Linked DNA regions of Homo sapiens: all the other regions are linked to region 3. The links come from fine-mapping of genetic effects on gene expression. A gene starts in region 3. Each other region holds a variant in brackets. All regions are shown on one strand. Distances are from middle to middle. Region 1 overlaps EHMT1 (euchromatic histone lysine methyltransferase 1). Region 2 overlaps EHMT1 (euchromatic histone lysine methyltransferase 1). Region 3 holds the start of ARRDC1 (arrestin domain containing 1).

Region 1 (5,218 bases), 35 kb before region 3:
CCCCATCTCTACAAAAAAAAAATTAAAAATCAGCAGGGAATAGTGGCACGCACCCATAGTCCCAACTACTCGGGAGGCTGAGGCAGGAGGATCTCTTTAGCCCAGGAGGTCAAGGCTGCAGTGCTATGATTGTGCCACTGTACTCCCACCTGGGTGACAGAGCGAGACCCTGTCAAGAGGGGAGGGGAGGGGAATGCAATCAAGAGCGCCAGTAAAAGCAGCTACACAGGTAAAGTATAAAAGCAGCTACATAAGACAGTATAAATGTATTTGTTAATTTATAATTTGTTTTTTCTCCTATATGATTTGAAAGACAATTGCGTAAAGCAGCAACTATAAATCTGCGTAGATGGGCACACAGTGTAATGTAATTTGTATGACAATAACAGTACAAGAAGGGCAAAAGAAATTAAGCTATGCCCAAATAAATATTTCATATAGTATTGTAATATAGTATTAATACAAACTACATTATCAAAAATTAATATACTAAATTGTAATCCCCAGGACAACCAAGAAAACAAATAAAAAATACAGTCAAATAAACAGCAAGGGAATTAAAATGGTATACACTAGAAAATATCTAACACAAAAGAAGAAAGCAATGAGTCAGGCGTTGTGGTACGCCTGCAGTCCCAGCTACTCAGGAGGCTGAGGTGGGAGGATCCTGTGAGCCCGGGAGTTCAAGGCCACGGTGCACTATGATCATGCCTATGAATACTCACTGCGCTCCAGCCTGGGCAACATAGTGAAACTCCATCTCCATGAAGAACAAAAACTAACTGAGGCAGAAAGTAACAAAAAAGACAGAAGACGCAGAAAGCAAATACAAAATCGACAAGTATAAACCCTACCTTTCAGTAATTACATTAGATGAAACGCATTACCTGTCCCACATGAAAAGTAGAGACTGGGGGAATAGATTAAAAAATTTGGGGCCGGGCGCAGTGGCTCACACCTGTAATCCCAGCACTTTGGGAGGCCGAGGCGGGTGGATCACCTGAGGTCAGGAGTTCAGGACCAGCTTGGCCAACTTGACGAAACTCCGTCTCTACTAAAAATACAAAAATTAGCCAGGCATGGTGGTGGGTGCCTGTAGTCCCAGCTACTCAGGAGGCTGAGGCAGGAGAACAGCTTGAACCATGGAGTTGGAGGGCATGGGGGCAGAGGTTGCCATGAGCCAAGGTCATGCCACTGTACTCCAGCCTGGGTGACAGAGCGAGACTCCATGTCAAAAAAAAAAAAAATGTGATCTTAGTCCTATGAGCTTCTTCCTGATGAGCAAGGAGGCCCTTGGGTCCAGACTCTCCTCCCGGAATGACCCCCAAACACCCGTCTCTGCCCCTGCCTGAAAGGAAGACATGGCGCCAGCCCCTGACAGAGGCCAGAGGAAGAGAGGAACAGAACAAGCGGCAACCAAGCCCACGAGGAAGCACAGCACAAAACAGGCTTCAGAAACAGGCTTAGCAAGTGAGCGGCAAGCGGACTGGGAGAGCGAACATAGACAAATTCGGCCAACCACGTTCTTCAGGGCAGATGAGAATTGATTCCCAAAATCCCCAATTTCTGGGTAATAACATTTGTCAGCCATCCACAAGCGTCTGCACTGCTTGGGAGGAGGATGAAGAGGCACTGCATTGTTTGACCAGTGCTGAAGTGACAGAATTTGAAGATATTAAATCAGGTTACAGAATAGGTTTTTATTTTGACGAAAATCCTTACTTCAAAAATAAAGCTCTCTCAAAGAATTTCATCTGAATGAGAGTCATGATCCATCTTCAAAGTCCACGGAAATCAAATGGAAATCTGGAAAGGAAACTCTTCAAGTCAAATGCAGAATAAAGCCAGTAGGAAGAGGCATCCTGAGGAACCAGACAGGTTCTTCACCTGGTTTACTGGCCATTCTGACGCAGGTGCAGATGAGTTAGGAGAGGTCAGCAAAGACCATACTTGGCCAAATTCATCACAGTGCTCCTTGGTTCCCAATATGGATGATAAAGAAGGAGAAGACGAAGATGATGAGGAGGAGGAACTGGAAGACACTGATGAGGAACGGGATAAGGAGAAGATAACTAATAGAACACACATGGATTAGAACCTTCCTTTTTTAAAGCTGTCTCCAGTTCCCGGGAGCAAGGTGCAGTCTTGCTTTTTCCCTCTTGTGCTCACCCAGTTCTTGAGGTCTCTTTTGTCTACACCGTGGATCTCAACTTATCTGGGGGGGAAATACCTTGAGGAGAATAAAATGTGAAAAGAATCTCTACCTCTTTCTGTTTCAAACTCATTTTTATCCCTTCCTATCTCAACAAACTTGTATGGAATCAACATCACCATGTTCTATGGAAAAAAGAACAACTTTCTGCCCCCTTTGCACTGTTGGAAGCTAAAGGGCGCCAGGCCCCTATAATGCAGAGAATTCTAGCATTTTTTCCTTCTCTGCATATTGGGCTCAGAGAAAACATGTATCTACTTGCTCTTGATTAAAAAAAGAAAATTTCAGACCAGGCACAGGGGTGCACACCTGTAATCCTAGCACTTTGGGAGACCAAGATGGGAGGATCACTTGAGGCCAGGAGTTCAAAACCAGCCTGAGCAACATAGGAAGACCCCATCTTTACAAAAAATTTAAAAATTAGCTGGACATAGTGGCAGATGCCAGTGGTCCCAGCTGATCAGGAAGCCAAGGTGGGAGGACTGCTTGAGCCCAGGGTCAAGGCTGCAGTGAGCTATGATCACGCCACTGCACTCCAGCCAGGGTAACAGCAAGACCAGGTCTCTAAAACACACAAAAATAAAACAAAACAAAAATTAAAATTAAAAGCTTTAAAAAATAAGGTTACAGGCCAGGCACGGTGGCTCACACCCGTAATCCCAGCACTTTGGGAGGCCGAGGCAGGCGGATCACCTGAGTTCAGGAGTTCAAGAACAGCCTGGCCAACACAG[C/T]GAAACCCCATCTCTACTAAAAATATAAAACTTAGCCGGGCACAGTGGCACATGCCTGTAATCCTAGCTACTCGGGAGGCAGAGGCAGGACAATCACTCGAACCCGGGAGGCAGAGGTTACGGTGAGCCAAGATCGCGCCATTGCACTCCAGCCTGGGCAACAAGAGCGAGACTCCGTCTCTAAATAAATAAGGTTACAGAAGGCCAGCAAAGGGTGGGTCTCAAATGTCTGGTGGGTTGAGTGGGCATTCTGATATCACAGCTCCTCCTCTGGCTGATTAATGGGGAGGTACAACAGACATCCTTGCAGTCTAAGGTGACACTTTAAAAATAAAATCTCTTCTATCAGGTAAGAAAAATACATATATATGATTCAACTGCTGAATCTACAAGATCCGATCTCAGATGGAAAGGACTGTAAGAGACATCCCTTCGATTGAAGATACAAAGAGATTAAAAGGCCAGAAAAAGATATAGTATGCAAAAATAAACCATAAAAAAACTGAAGTGGCTATACTGACATCAGACAAAATAGACTTTAAAACAAAAACATTTATAGAGACAAAGAGGGACATTTCATAATGAGAGAAGTGTCAAAACACCCAGGCAGATGTAACAACTATAAACACACGCAAGATAACATAGTCTCAAAACACGAGGCAAAAACCAACAGAACTGAAAGTGAAAATGTAAAATTCGACAGTACTGTAGATCTCATACTCTACTCTCAATAACTAATAGAACTAGAAAGAAAATGAGAAAGAATAAGGAAGACTTAATACTATCAACCAATTCAATCTGACATATAGGGAACATTCCACCTAATAAATTCATAATGCACATTATTTTCAAGCACTGATGAAACATTCCCCAGGACAGAATATAATACGGGATTTTTTTTTTAATCTAACAAATTAAACACACTGAAACTATACAAAGTATAATTCTGACCATACAGGAATTACATTAGAAATCAACAAAACAAAGAAATCCAGGAAATACCTAAATATTTAGAAATTAAATGACACACTTCTAAAGTCACAAGGGAAAATAGAAAATATTCTGAACTGAATAAAAATGAAAATACAACATATCAACATTTATAGGAAGCAGCCTGTTTTTTCCTAGGACACATGTAACAATAGAAATGTATGGTCTCGAAGTTCTGAAGGCTGGAAGTCCACAATGAAGGTGTCAGTAGGCCTTGTGGTCTGTAATGGCTTTGGAGTGCCATCCCCTGCCTCGGCCAGGCTCTGGGGTCTGCTGGCCGTCCCTGACACTCCTTGGCTTATGGAAGCATCACCCCAGTCATGCGCCACTTCTCCCTGTGTGTCCGCATGCTGTCTTCCTTCTGTGCATGTCTGTGTTCACAAGGCATCCTTTTTTTTTTATGAGGACACGTAAGTCATACTGGATTAGAGGCCTACCCTACTCAACTATGATTTCATCTTAACTAATCTGCAATGACCCTATTTCCAAATAAGGTCAAATTCTGAAGTATGGGGTTTAGGACTTCAACATATTTTTTAGGGGAATGCAATTTATTCTATAACATAGCTAAAAGCATTAAGAAACTAGTAAAAAACTAGGCCGGGTGCAGTGGCTCATGCCTGCAATCCCAACACTTTGGGAGGCCAAGGCGGGTGGATCATTTGAAGTCAGGAGTTTGAGACCACCTCGGCCAACATGGTGAGACATCATCTCTACTAAAAATACAAAAATTAGCCGGGCGTGGTGGCGGGTGCCTGTAATCTCAGCTACTTGGGAGGCTGAGGTGGGTGGATCACCTGAGGTCAGGAGCGCGAGACCAGCACAGCCAACATGGTGAAACTCCGTCTCCTAAAAATGCAAAAAATTAGCTGGGCATGGTGGCGCACGCCTATATTCCCAACTATTCAGGAGGCAGAGGCAGGAGAATTGCTTGAACCCAGGAGGCGGAGCTTGCAGTGAGCCGAGATCGCACCACTGCACTCCAGCCTGGGCAAAAGGGCGAGACTCCATCTTAAAAAAAAAAAAAAGTTGCTTCTCTGAAAAATTCAACATAATTCACAAAACTTTAGCTAGAATGACCAAGAAAAAGAGAAAAATGACCCCACTTACCAAAATTTATTAGCGTCAAAGGGGAACACAAGCCCTGACAGAAATAAAAATGGTCACAGGGAACATACGAGCAACTGCATACCGGAAACTAGATAACCTGGATGCCATGAACAAATTCTCAGAAAGACCCACAACAACAAAGATAACTCAGGAATAAACAGAAAACCTACACACC
Region 2 (5,218 bases), 24 kb before region 3:
TTCAAGTGCCTTCTGTGATTCCTTCCCAACCCTCCCCCAACCCTGGAACGAACACCATTCTACTGCACCATCCTAGCCCAGGGCAGAGCCAGCTCTAACATATACCAGCTACATGGTAAAGTCATCGAACCCCTCGACAGGACAGTAACATCTACTGCATCTAAGTGACGCTGAATGAGGGGGATACATTCGGAGATATGCGTCATCAGGTGATTTCATCACTGTGCAAACGTCAAAGAGTGCACTTCTGCAAACCTATTACACATCTAGGCTGTGTGGTGTAGCCCATGGCTTCCAGGCTATAAACCTGCACAGCGCGTTACTGCAGGTAAGTGCAACACAATGACACATGTGCGTCTGAACACAGAAAAGGCAGTGCACTACCCTACTACAAAGCAATGCCCACGACGTGATTAGGCAGTAAGAATTTCTAGCCTCTATTATAATCTTTTTTTTCTTTTTTTGAGACAGGGTCTCACTCTGCTGCCCAGACTGAAGTGCAGTGGCACCAACACGGTTCACTGCAGCCTTGACCTCCTGGTCAAACAACTCTCCCCACCTCAGCCTCCCGGAGTAGCTGGGTCTACAGGCACACACCACAATGCCCAACTAATTTTTCATTATTTTTTGTAGAGACAGGGTCTCATTATGTTGTCCAGGCTGATCTTGAACTCCTGGGCTCAAGTGATCCTCCTGCCTCAGCCTCTCAAAGTGCTGGGATTACAGGTGTGAGCCACCACGCCTGACCTTCATTCTAATCTTAGGGGACCACCTTCATGTATGTGGTCTGCCACGGACCAAAATGTCCTTAAGTGCCACATGACTGTATATTCATAAACATCATGAAATATGCACAGTAATTAAATACTGGTGACCTGCCAAGAGAAGAACTAGTGGCTAGGGAGGTACTTTTTCAATTTTATTTTATTTTTATTTTTATTTTTTTTCCAAGACAGAGGTTCACTCTTGTTACCCAGGCTGGAGTCCAATGGCACGATCTCAGGTCACTGCAACCTCCACCTCCCGGGTTCAAGCGATTCTCCTGCCTCAGCCTCCCGAGTAGCTGGGATTACAGGCGCCCGCCATCACGCCCGGCTAATTTTTTTATATTTTTATTAGAGACAGGGTTCCACCAATGTTGGCCAGGCTGCTCTTGAACTTCTGACGTCAGGTGATCAATCCACCCGCCTCGGCCTCCCAAAGTGGTGGGATTACAGGCATAAGCCACCACACACGGCCATACTTTTTCAATTTTGAACCATGTAACTGTCCTATATGCTCAAAAAATTAAATCTAAACACCTATATCATGACTAACCCATACCACTCAAGCCAAGCCTGCTCACTGGCCCCCTACTTCCGCTCTCCACACAGCAGCCAGGGTCATCTTTTTAAAGTATCATTCCATGCCTAAAATCTTCAAGGACTGTCTACAGTGGTTATGAAACTTCCCAACTTGTTACCATGGTAACAAGGCCCTGGATAACCTTGCCCTGCCTCTCCAGCTTCATCTCATGCCACTATCCCCTTCTGACCTTGTAATTCCACTGTGCACCAAAGGATACAGACCTCACCCAAATCACAGTCGAGGAAACTGGGACTTTTCTATGTCACACACCATGCAGCTACCAAAAACACTGAAGATACGAATGCACGTCAGACAATACGGGACAGAGGAAGTACAACGGCACATAATCACTGATTACCACCAATTTTAAATAAAAACACATACACTCACGAGGATCAGGAAAAAAACAGATGACAAATATATGGCATCCTGAGGTTTCTAGGTTTGATTTCTAAATTTGCTAAAATGCCTAATTTTTGTTAATGTACACTTTGTCCACCTTCTCATGCCAATTCATGTCTCACATCCTTTAAGACCTAGACTATGTGTTGGACAAGAAGCTGTTAAAGGAAAAAAAAGACCTAGACTAACTCATCTTCCTCAAGGAACTTTTCCCCACACATGTGGCCGCAGCAATTGTGGCCATCCAGCAGCCTCTTCTTGTTTACTTTTAACTGACTCTCATTTCCTACTCAGTAATATTTGCTCTGTTCTATTATTAAATTTTGTAACATCAGGGATCAATCTCAAAACTTTGTATGTCCTCTTACAAATACCTAGAATTGCACTGCATAAACAGAAAGTGCTCAAAACAGCATCTTAAATATACTGTGATCAGAACCAGCCTATTACAACTAGAATACAGAAAGAAATCCACAAGCTTTTCCAGAATGAAACAGCAGCTCACAGTGATGTTCCTGGGAAAGTGGCCTCTTATCCAAGAGACTCCATTTCAAAGGAAATGCTACCTCTGAAGAGTTATAGCAGCCACTTTAGCTTTGTTTTTCAAAATCCAAAATCATCAGATTTTTTTTTAATACATGAAAATATTAAAAGTTAAAGAGAAGCAAAACAGTAAGAAAGGAGAATTCTCAGTCCTGGAAGTAATGCTTTCTATATCATACCTGCCATAGGCCAAATTAACTGGGCTCTAATAACTATTCTCAGCCGGGTGC[G/A]GTGGCTCATGCCTATAATCCCAGCACTTTGGGAGGCCGAGGTGGGCGGATCACCTGAGGTCAGGAGTTCGAGACCAGCCTGGCTAACATGGTGAAACCCCGTTTCTACTAAAAATACAAAAAACTGGACCAGGTGCGATGGCTCATGCCTGTAACCTCAGCACTTTGGGAGGCAGAGGCGGGCAGATCACGAGGTCAGGAGAGCGAGACCATCCTGGCTAACACAGTGAAACCCTGTCTCTACTAAAAATACAAAAAATTAGCTAGGCATGGTGGTGGGCGCCTGTAGTCCCAGCTACTTGGGAGACTGAGGCAGAAGAATGGCGAGAACCCAGGAGGCGGAGCTTGCAGTGAGCCGAGATCACGCCACTGCACTCCAGCCTGGGCAACAGAGCGAGACTCCATTTAACAACAACAACAAAAAAACTGGCCAGGTGTGGTGGCTCACGCCGGTAATCCCAACACTTTGGGAGGCCGAGGCAGGCAGATCACCTGAGGTCACGAGTTTGAGACCAGCCTGACGAACATAGAGAAATCCCATCTCTACTAAAAATACAAAATTAGCCAGGCATGGTGGTGGGCGCCTGTAATCCCAGCTACTCGGGAGGCTGAGGCTGGAGAATCGCTTGAACCTGGGAGGCGGAGGTTCCAGTGAGCCAAGATTGCACCACTGCACTCCAGCCTGGGCAACGAGAGCGAAACTCCATCTCAAAAAAAAAAAAAAAATACAAAAGCAAATAACTATTCCCTACCTGGTTTGCTGAGTGAGCAACTTAAAATCAAACTGCCCACTTACCTTAGGATAAAGTAATCCATCAACCATGCTTAATCCAATGAAATGATTGAAAAAAAAAATAAAGTTCCTAAAGAATCCAAAACATGATTCTTATAAGCCAAATTATTTTCAAAGAAAAACTCAATAAAATGTGGTCAAACCTACACAGCTCTTTCAGCACATGACAGGAAGCAGAAGAAGGAAACCAGGGCTCTAGCCCCACCTCTGGCTCTGGCCACGTGTGGGATCTCCAGCAACTAAGGTAGCCACAGACGCTCTTTTCGACATTAGAGCTGAGGCACAAACATCACCCTTGCTGGCCCTTACTATGACTCCAGAACCTTCCGACCACAACCAACAACTGACATAGTAAGATCCGAAGACAGGCAGCCCTTTTCATAGGACAGCTGTGCTTCTAGTTTACGGAAGAATCTGCTTCTCAAGATTTATGGAAAATGCTTCTCAGGCCAGCCACAGCAGTTCACGCCTGTGATCCTAACACTTTCAGAGGCCAAAGCGGGAGAATCGCCTGAGCCCAGTTGGAGATCGGCCTGGGCAACACAGTGAGACTCCATCTCTACAAAATGTTTTATAAATTATATTGTGTAATTAAAAATTAAATGTTTAAGTAATTTTAAAAAAAGAAAAATTGATTCTGATCCTCTCTTCTCTTAGCAAAAATCAATCAAAGACAAGAAAAGCAGGAAAGAGACACATAAACCCCAAGACATGTGAAATCCCTAAATAGAACACAAATAGGAAGACAGAGAGGTAGAGGAGAGCTAACCTATCCCACAGAGTAGAGGAAGGAGAAACTTAAATAAAGGAGTTGCAGCTGAGCAGCTGGCAGACTGACCCCAGAAAACACAGAAGGGTGGGGACAATGGGGGTGATGCCTGCAACTACAAAGGGGAATGCGGGCAAAACTCCACCTGAGAACAGCTGACCTCTCAGGTCTCCTCCTCAAGCAAGTACTGGTCTTCTGTAGCCACAAGACACCAGACGTTTAGCCCCATAAAAAGGTCCACCAAAAATGGCCGGGCATGGTGGCTCACACCTGTAATCCCATTATTTTGGGAGACCCAGGAGGGTGGATCACTTGAGGTCAGAAGTTCAAGACCAGCCTGGCCAACATGGCGAAACTCCCTCTCTACTAAAAATACAAAAAGTAGCCACACGTGGTGGTGCACAACTATAATCCCAGCTACTTGGGGGTGGGGGGGTAATGAGGCAGGAGAATTGCTTGAACCCAGGAGGCAGAGGTTGCAGTGAGCCGAGATCACACCACTGCACTCCAGCCTGGGCGACAAGACCAAGACTCTGTCTCAAAAAAAAAAAAAAATCCAGCTTATACCAGCAAGGCAAGAAATTGAGGGATCCTTCAAGAAAACCAAACCAGCAGACAGAACCTCTGCAAAAGGGCCGGGCGCGGCGGCTCACGCCTGTCATCCCAGCATTTTGGGAGGCTGAGGTGGGCAAATCACGGGCGCAGCGGCTCACGCCTGTCATCCCAGCATTTTGGGAGGCTGAGGTGGGCAAATCACCTGAGATCAGGGGTTTGAGACCAGCCTGACCAACATGGTGAAACCCCGTTTCTACTAAATATACAAAAAAATTATCCCGGAGTGGTGGTGCGCACCTGTAATCCCAGCTACTTGGGAGGCTGAGGTAAGAGAATCGTTTGAACCCGGGAGGTGGAGGTTGCAGTGAGCCAAGATCACGCCATTGCACTCCAGCGTGGGTGACAGAAAGAGATGCCATCTCAAAAAAAAAAAAAAAAAAAAAATGGCCAGGCATGGTGGTTCATGCCTACAATCCTAGCACTTTGGGAGGCAAGGGGGGTGGGTCACCTGAGGTCAGCAGTTTGAGACCAGCCTGGCCAACATGGTGAAACCCTGTCTCTACCAAAAATACAAAAATT
Region 3 (5,218 bases):
TGATGGCAGAACACGCTGAAGGGAACCGAGCCTTTCGCAACAGGAAAGCCACCAGGCAGGGCTTGGCTGCAGGACTGAGTGGCTCAGTGGCAGTCCCCTAGTCAGAGTGTGACTTCTTCCGCCTTCTGGACTTGAACGTTGCACCTCTTTGCAGGGGCCCTGCAAGCCCTGTCCCTCCTCCCCCATGCAGGTTTAAAAAATGTTTCCTGGCCAGGCACGGTGGCTCACGCCTGTAATCCCAGCACTTTGGGAGGCCGAGGCGGGCGGATCACGAGGTCAGGAGATCCAGACCCTCCTGGCTAACACGGTGAAACCCCGTCTCTACTAAAAATACACAAATTAGCCGGGTGTGGTGGCGGGCGCCTGTAGTCCCAGCTCTTAAGGAGGCTGAGGCAGGAGAATGGCGTGAACCGGGGAGGCGGAGCTTGCAGTGAGCCGAGATCGCGCCGGCACACTCCAGCCTGGGCGACAGAGGGAGACTCCGTCTCGAAAAAATAAATTAAAAAAATAAAAATAAAAAATGTTTCCTGTGTTCAGATGCACAAGCAAGGACAAGCTGCTGGAGGCTGCAGGCCTCTCTGACTCTAAGGAAGATCATGACTGGGCTGCGTTCTCAAGTGACCACTGGAACTTTCTTCTCCAGCTGGGGCTCCCACCTGTTCAGCAGCCCCTCCCTTGCACCACCTGCACTTGGACCATGAAGACCCACCCACTCCTCATCCTCATCCCAAAGGACTCACGCCTGCCACAGAAGCTGTGACCTGTAAGCCACTCCCCCAGTCCTGTTTCCAAATCTGTATCATGAGAGTAACAACCGTGCCACTTGCCAGGGCGCTGAGGGTTAACTGAGGCTGGCCCGTGGCACGTGGAGAGAATTGCATCGGGCCCACCATGAGTGCTCCGAGAACCACTGTCGGCCCTGGTCGCCCATCCCAGTAACAGCAGAACAAGAAGTGGTCCTGCCTGAACCCCAGCCCTGGACTGGGCCAGCCTGAGCTCCAGAAAACTGCTCCCTCCCAGGCCTCCCTCCGCGTCAGCCCTTTAGACAGCCGGTGTCCTCACGGCTGGGTGCTGACTGTCACCGACACTCATCGGCAGAGTAAGTGAGCAAGCTCTGGGGCCCAGGCAGGGCTGCTGTCCTCCTGGGGGCTGAGGGCCTCCCTACTGGCTCCTAGCAGGATTGACAAGCATCCTCTGAATGAGGAAAAGAAACCATGGTCCTTCTGTTCCCATCCCAGGCAGGGCTGGGGGAAACCCCCGGGGGCCCCGGTACACCCTCCCACCTCACTTGCAGCAGCCTGAATCATGTGCTCTCTGGCCCATCAGGGCCCATCTCCTACTCCTTAGCTCACGACCCTCCTTTTTCTCCCTCATTCAGACCAGCCTCTGTGAGGTAGGACCATCAGCCAGTGCTCCCTCGGCTCTTGGGCCAGCTGCCCAAAGTGCTGGGATTACAGGCGTGAGCATTCAACCCACCCACCACGTCCACCCGGAGGCCAGGGGAGCCTGCACACCCAGGCCAGTCACGCACCGCGGGGCCGTCCCTTCCCTGTGGTAAGCAATGGCCTGCTCACCCCAGGCCACGCCAGGGGAAGGACGACAGGGTCCTGCACAGCCCTCAACCAGGATCCAGCCGGCCTCACCACACACCACACCTGTACCCAAGAGATGTGTGTGCTATCTCTGCCCTGCCACGGCCACACCTGCCCCCACCCAGACCCCAAACTCAAGGTTGGGACAGAGGAAGGGAGGCTGTGGGGTCATCCCAGGAGGCCCAGTGGGGCCAGGAGCCTGACAGAAGCACCTACCACCCGGCTTCTTCCGAGGCCCCACAGCCTCAGGCGGTGCAGGGTCAGGGCCACAGCACCATCACCTGTCCCAGGAGGCTGAGAGGACAGAACAGAGACTGTGGGTTCTCAGCAGGCACAAAATCGGTGCTGTTACCCACGCGCGGGCCCAGCGGTCAAGGTCCAGCGGCAAGTCCAGGGGCTGTGGCACAGGCCAAGCAGCCCAGGTGGTTCCCACAGGAGGCCAAGGTAGAGAAGTCCCCGGCAGGGACGCGGCACTCACAGCCAAGGGCCGGGCAGAGGCAGCCTCACCTCGCGGGCCGGCCCTCACCTCCAGGGCGCCCTGCCAGCGGCCACTGCAGCAACCCGATACCCAGTCCCCGAGGCCCAGGCGTCCACCTCGGCGGGGGGCCGGCGAGGCCTGCTGGCGGGTGGCAGGGGGCGCAGGGAGCCGCAGCAGGTGTCTGCACCCCGCCGGGACCGCACGCCCGCGCCAGGAGCGGCTCTGCAGCGGGAGCGCCTGCGCCGGGAGCCAGGGTGCGGGAAGGAGCCCAGCAGGTGCGAGCGCGGACGGGGAGGGTCGCAGGCCTGCGTGCGCCCGCGCTCAGGGCGTCCTCCACAGTGGACCCGCTTCAGGCCCCGCCGGGACCCCGCCGCCCCTCGGCGAGAGGGCAGGAAGGGCAGACGCGGAAGGGCGGCGCCGCCCGGACCTCCCCGGCGCCGCCGAGCCCGCTTCCCAGCAGTCCCGGGCGGCGAAGACAGCGACTCCGCGGGCCCAACCCGGGGCCAGGCGACGGCAGCCGCTTCCGGGAGCCCTGGCCCCGCGCAGGTGCGGCCAAAGGCCCTCCCCGAGGACCCGCGCCCACCTCGGAACGGCAGCGGTGCCCCCAGGCGCACGCGCACGGTCCCAGCCAACGGCTCCCCGGGGCTGTAGACGACGCGGCCGTGGCTCAGGCTGATCTCGAAGAGCTGCACTCGCCCCATGCCGCGGCCTCACCGGCCAGCCGCGCAGCGACGCCCCCGCCCGCCGCCCGCGAGTCCCGGCTCCGAGGCCCGGCCCCGCCCCCTCCTATGCCCCGCCCCCATCCGTCCCAATCCCGGCCTCCACCCCCATCCGGCCCCTCCCAGGCCCTGCCCCGCCCCACGGCCCCGCCCAGCCCCCCGGCCGCCCCGTAGCCCGCGGACTGCCGCTCGGAGGCCCGGCCCAGCCCCTATTCCCCGCCCCATCCGTCCGTGTGGCCCCGCCCCCTCGTTATTCCCCGCCCCTCTGACAGCCTCCTCGCCCCGCCCCCGCCCTTCGCCCCTGCCTCGCCTTCCCAGCTCCGCCCCTGCCTCGGCCGCCCCACCCCTGCCCCGCCCCCCGGCCGCGCTCATCCATCCCCGGCCCTGGCCCTGTCCCGGCTGGGTAGGTGCTGCGCTGCGTCGGGCGCCGCTTAAGGGACTTGAGGCGCAAGCGTCCCGTGCGTCCCCCACGGAGGGAGTCACCGCCGCGTCTCCGTCGGGGGGCAGGGCTGGGGGCGGGGCCGAGGCGAGCTCTGAGACTGGGAAGGTCTCCCCGCTGCACTCTGCTGCGGGCAGAACCCACTCCTCCGCCCCCACCCTCCGCCCGTCCCGCCCAGGGGTCTCCCTCACCCCGAGTCGCGGAAAAACGTCACGGGGCCGCGCGGGCGTCCTGGGCGGGGATGCTCCGCCGCGTAGGACCTGCCCCGCCTCAACCCCCACCCCCGGCTCCTGCCCCGCACCCCCAACCTTCTCCGCACCTACCTCGCGTCCCAGCACCTGTCGCGCCCCTCCGGAACCTGCCCGCCCTCCCGCCTTCCCGGTACCTGCCTACCCCCGCAACTGTCCCGGCCCCCAACACCTGCATCGCCCAACCCCTTCCCCCCCCGCCCCCTGCCTTCCCCGCACCTGCCCGGAGTCCCAGCACCTGCCCCGCCCCCCGCTATCCCCCTCCTTGCTGGCCTGATGGGGTGTGGGCCCAAGGGAGCCACACTTGGGCGGAGGCCCTTGGGCAGGGGTCCGCAGCAGAAGGGTCGGGGGCCAGGTGGGGCGAGGACTTGGATCACTTGAAACCAGGAGGAACACACTCCCATTTATCTTTTTTAAAGGGTCCCTTTGTAGAGAGTGAGCCGCGGGGGGTGGGACTCAAATACCCAGGGGACCTAAGGCGGGAGAGACCGGTTGGGTAGTCCTGGAGAGGGAAGGCGTCGCTCGACAAGGACCAGCTCACCACGGAGTGGGTGTGCGGGCCCCAGTGCTGCGAGTTTTTCTAGGACAGCCGGTGAAGAGGGTGGCCTTCTCTGATGGGGAGGACGGACCTAGATACACATGGTTTGGGGGTGGGAGGGTCATCACATGCAGAGTCTGAGGTGCCACTGATCCCCAATGGACCAAGTACTTCCGTGCATGAGCCTGGGAGTCAAGCACTAAAATGTTGCCATCCCTAGTTGGTAGAAGGTAACAGGTCAGGGAGGAGGAGTCTGGCACCCCAGCAAAGAGAAAGGGGCTCACAGGCTGGAGGGGCCCCCGGGCCAGGCTGGGAGAGGCCCTGAAGCCCCAGGCCCAGCTCACTCCCTTAGGATTCCGATGTTTCCGGAGGTGGGTCTAACTGGCCATGCTCCAGACACTTTCCTGCCAAGGCTATGCACAGGCAGAATTCCCGAACAAGAGAGAAGGGTGCCATGGGATGGCAAGGATTGTGGACAGCCCTCCCGAATGGCAGTCGGCCATGCCAGAAGTCAGAAAGAAGGTGTTTCACCGGGCGCGGTGGCTCGCACCTCTAATCCCAGCACTTTGGGAGGCCGAGGTGGACGGATCACGAGGTCAGGAGATCGAGTCCATCCTGGCTAACATGGTGAAACCCCGTCTCTACTAAAAATACAAAAAGAAAAAAAAAAATTAGCCGGGCGTGGTGACAGGCGCCGTGGTCCCAGCTACTTGGGAGGCTGAGGCAGGAGAATGGCGTGAATCCAGGAGGCGGAGCTTGCAGTGAGCCAAGATCACGCCACTGCACTCCAGCCTGGGCAACAGAGTGAGACTCCATTTCAAAAAAAAAAAACAGAAAAAGAAAAAAAAGAAAGTGTTTCAAGCAAGGGACAGACAGACTGTATTGCAAGCTACTGAGATGGAAGACAATGGACACAGAACACAGGTGGCCTTTATCCCAGGTCAGCCACAATCTAAGCCCCACAGGACTCTGCACATCCTTGATTCTGACCCTATCTCCCACCCATCCTGTGTTCCAGAAACCACCACCAGCACCAACCGCCCTGTCATTAGACTCTTCTTCTCCAAGCATACTTCTAGCTGCACTCTCATGAAAACCTGGCTTCCCCTGGAGCTTTCGGGTGTAGAGATATCTTTTCGCAGGATCCCTCTACCTCTGGGTCTGTAGGTGGGGTTGGGGCCCTCCTGGCTCCTTCCTAACACTA

The links. PIP is the estimated chance that this variant, and not a neighbour inherited with it, causes the effect.
Region 1: its variant is the best candidate, but not a certain one, in a credible set for the expression of ARRDC1 in whole blood (INTERVAL, PIP 0.83).
Region 2: its variant is the best candidate, but not a certain one, in a credible set for the expression of ARRDC1 in whole blood (GTEx, PIP 0.52).

What each region holds. Positions count from the first base shown.
Region 1 is chr9:137,637,858-137,643,075 of GRCh38, reverse strand. The region is part of intron 1 of EHMT1 (euchromatic histone lysine methyltransferase 1); the gene reads right to left. It also overlaps the pseudogene SETP5. Among named protein-coding and RNA genes, the nearest start is that of EHMT1, 21 kb to the right of the region's middle. The variant C/T (reference allele first, on the strand shown) is at 2,944.
Region 2 is chr9:137,627,124-137,632,341 of GRCh38, reverse strand. All of the region lies in intron 1 of EHMT1 (euchromatic histone lysine methyltransferase 1), which reads right to left. Among named protein-coding and RNA genes, the nearest start is that of EHMT1, 11 kb to the right of the region's middle. RefSeq lists an enhancer at 3,720-3,779. The variant G/A (reference allele first, on the strand shown) is at 2,523.
Region 3 is chr9:137,603,271-137,608,488 of GRCh38, reverse strand. ARRDC1 (arrestin domain containing 1) reads right to left here and starts at 2,803. Exons shown (of 8, transcript NM_152285.4): 1 at 2,654-2,803. The coding sequence starts at 2,771. It overlaps LOC124902318 (a long non-coding RNA gene), which reads left to right and starts at 3,151. Exons shown (of 3, transcript XR_007061885.1): 1 at 3,151-3,192. RefSeq lists silencers at 2,132-2,401, 2,412-3,541.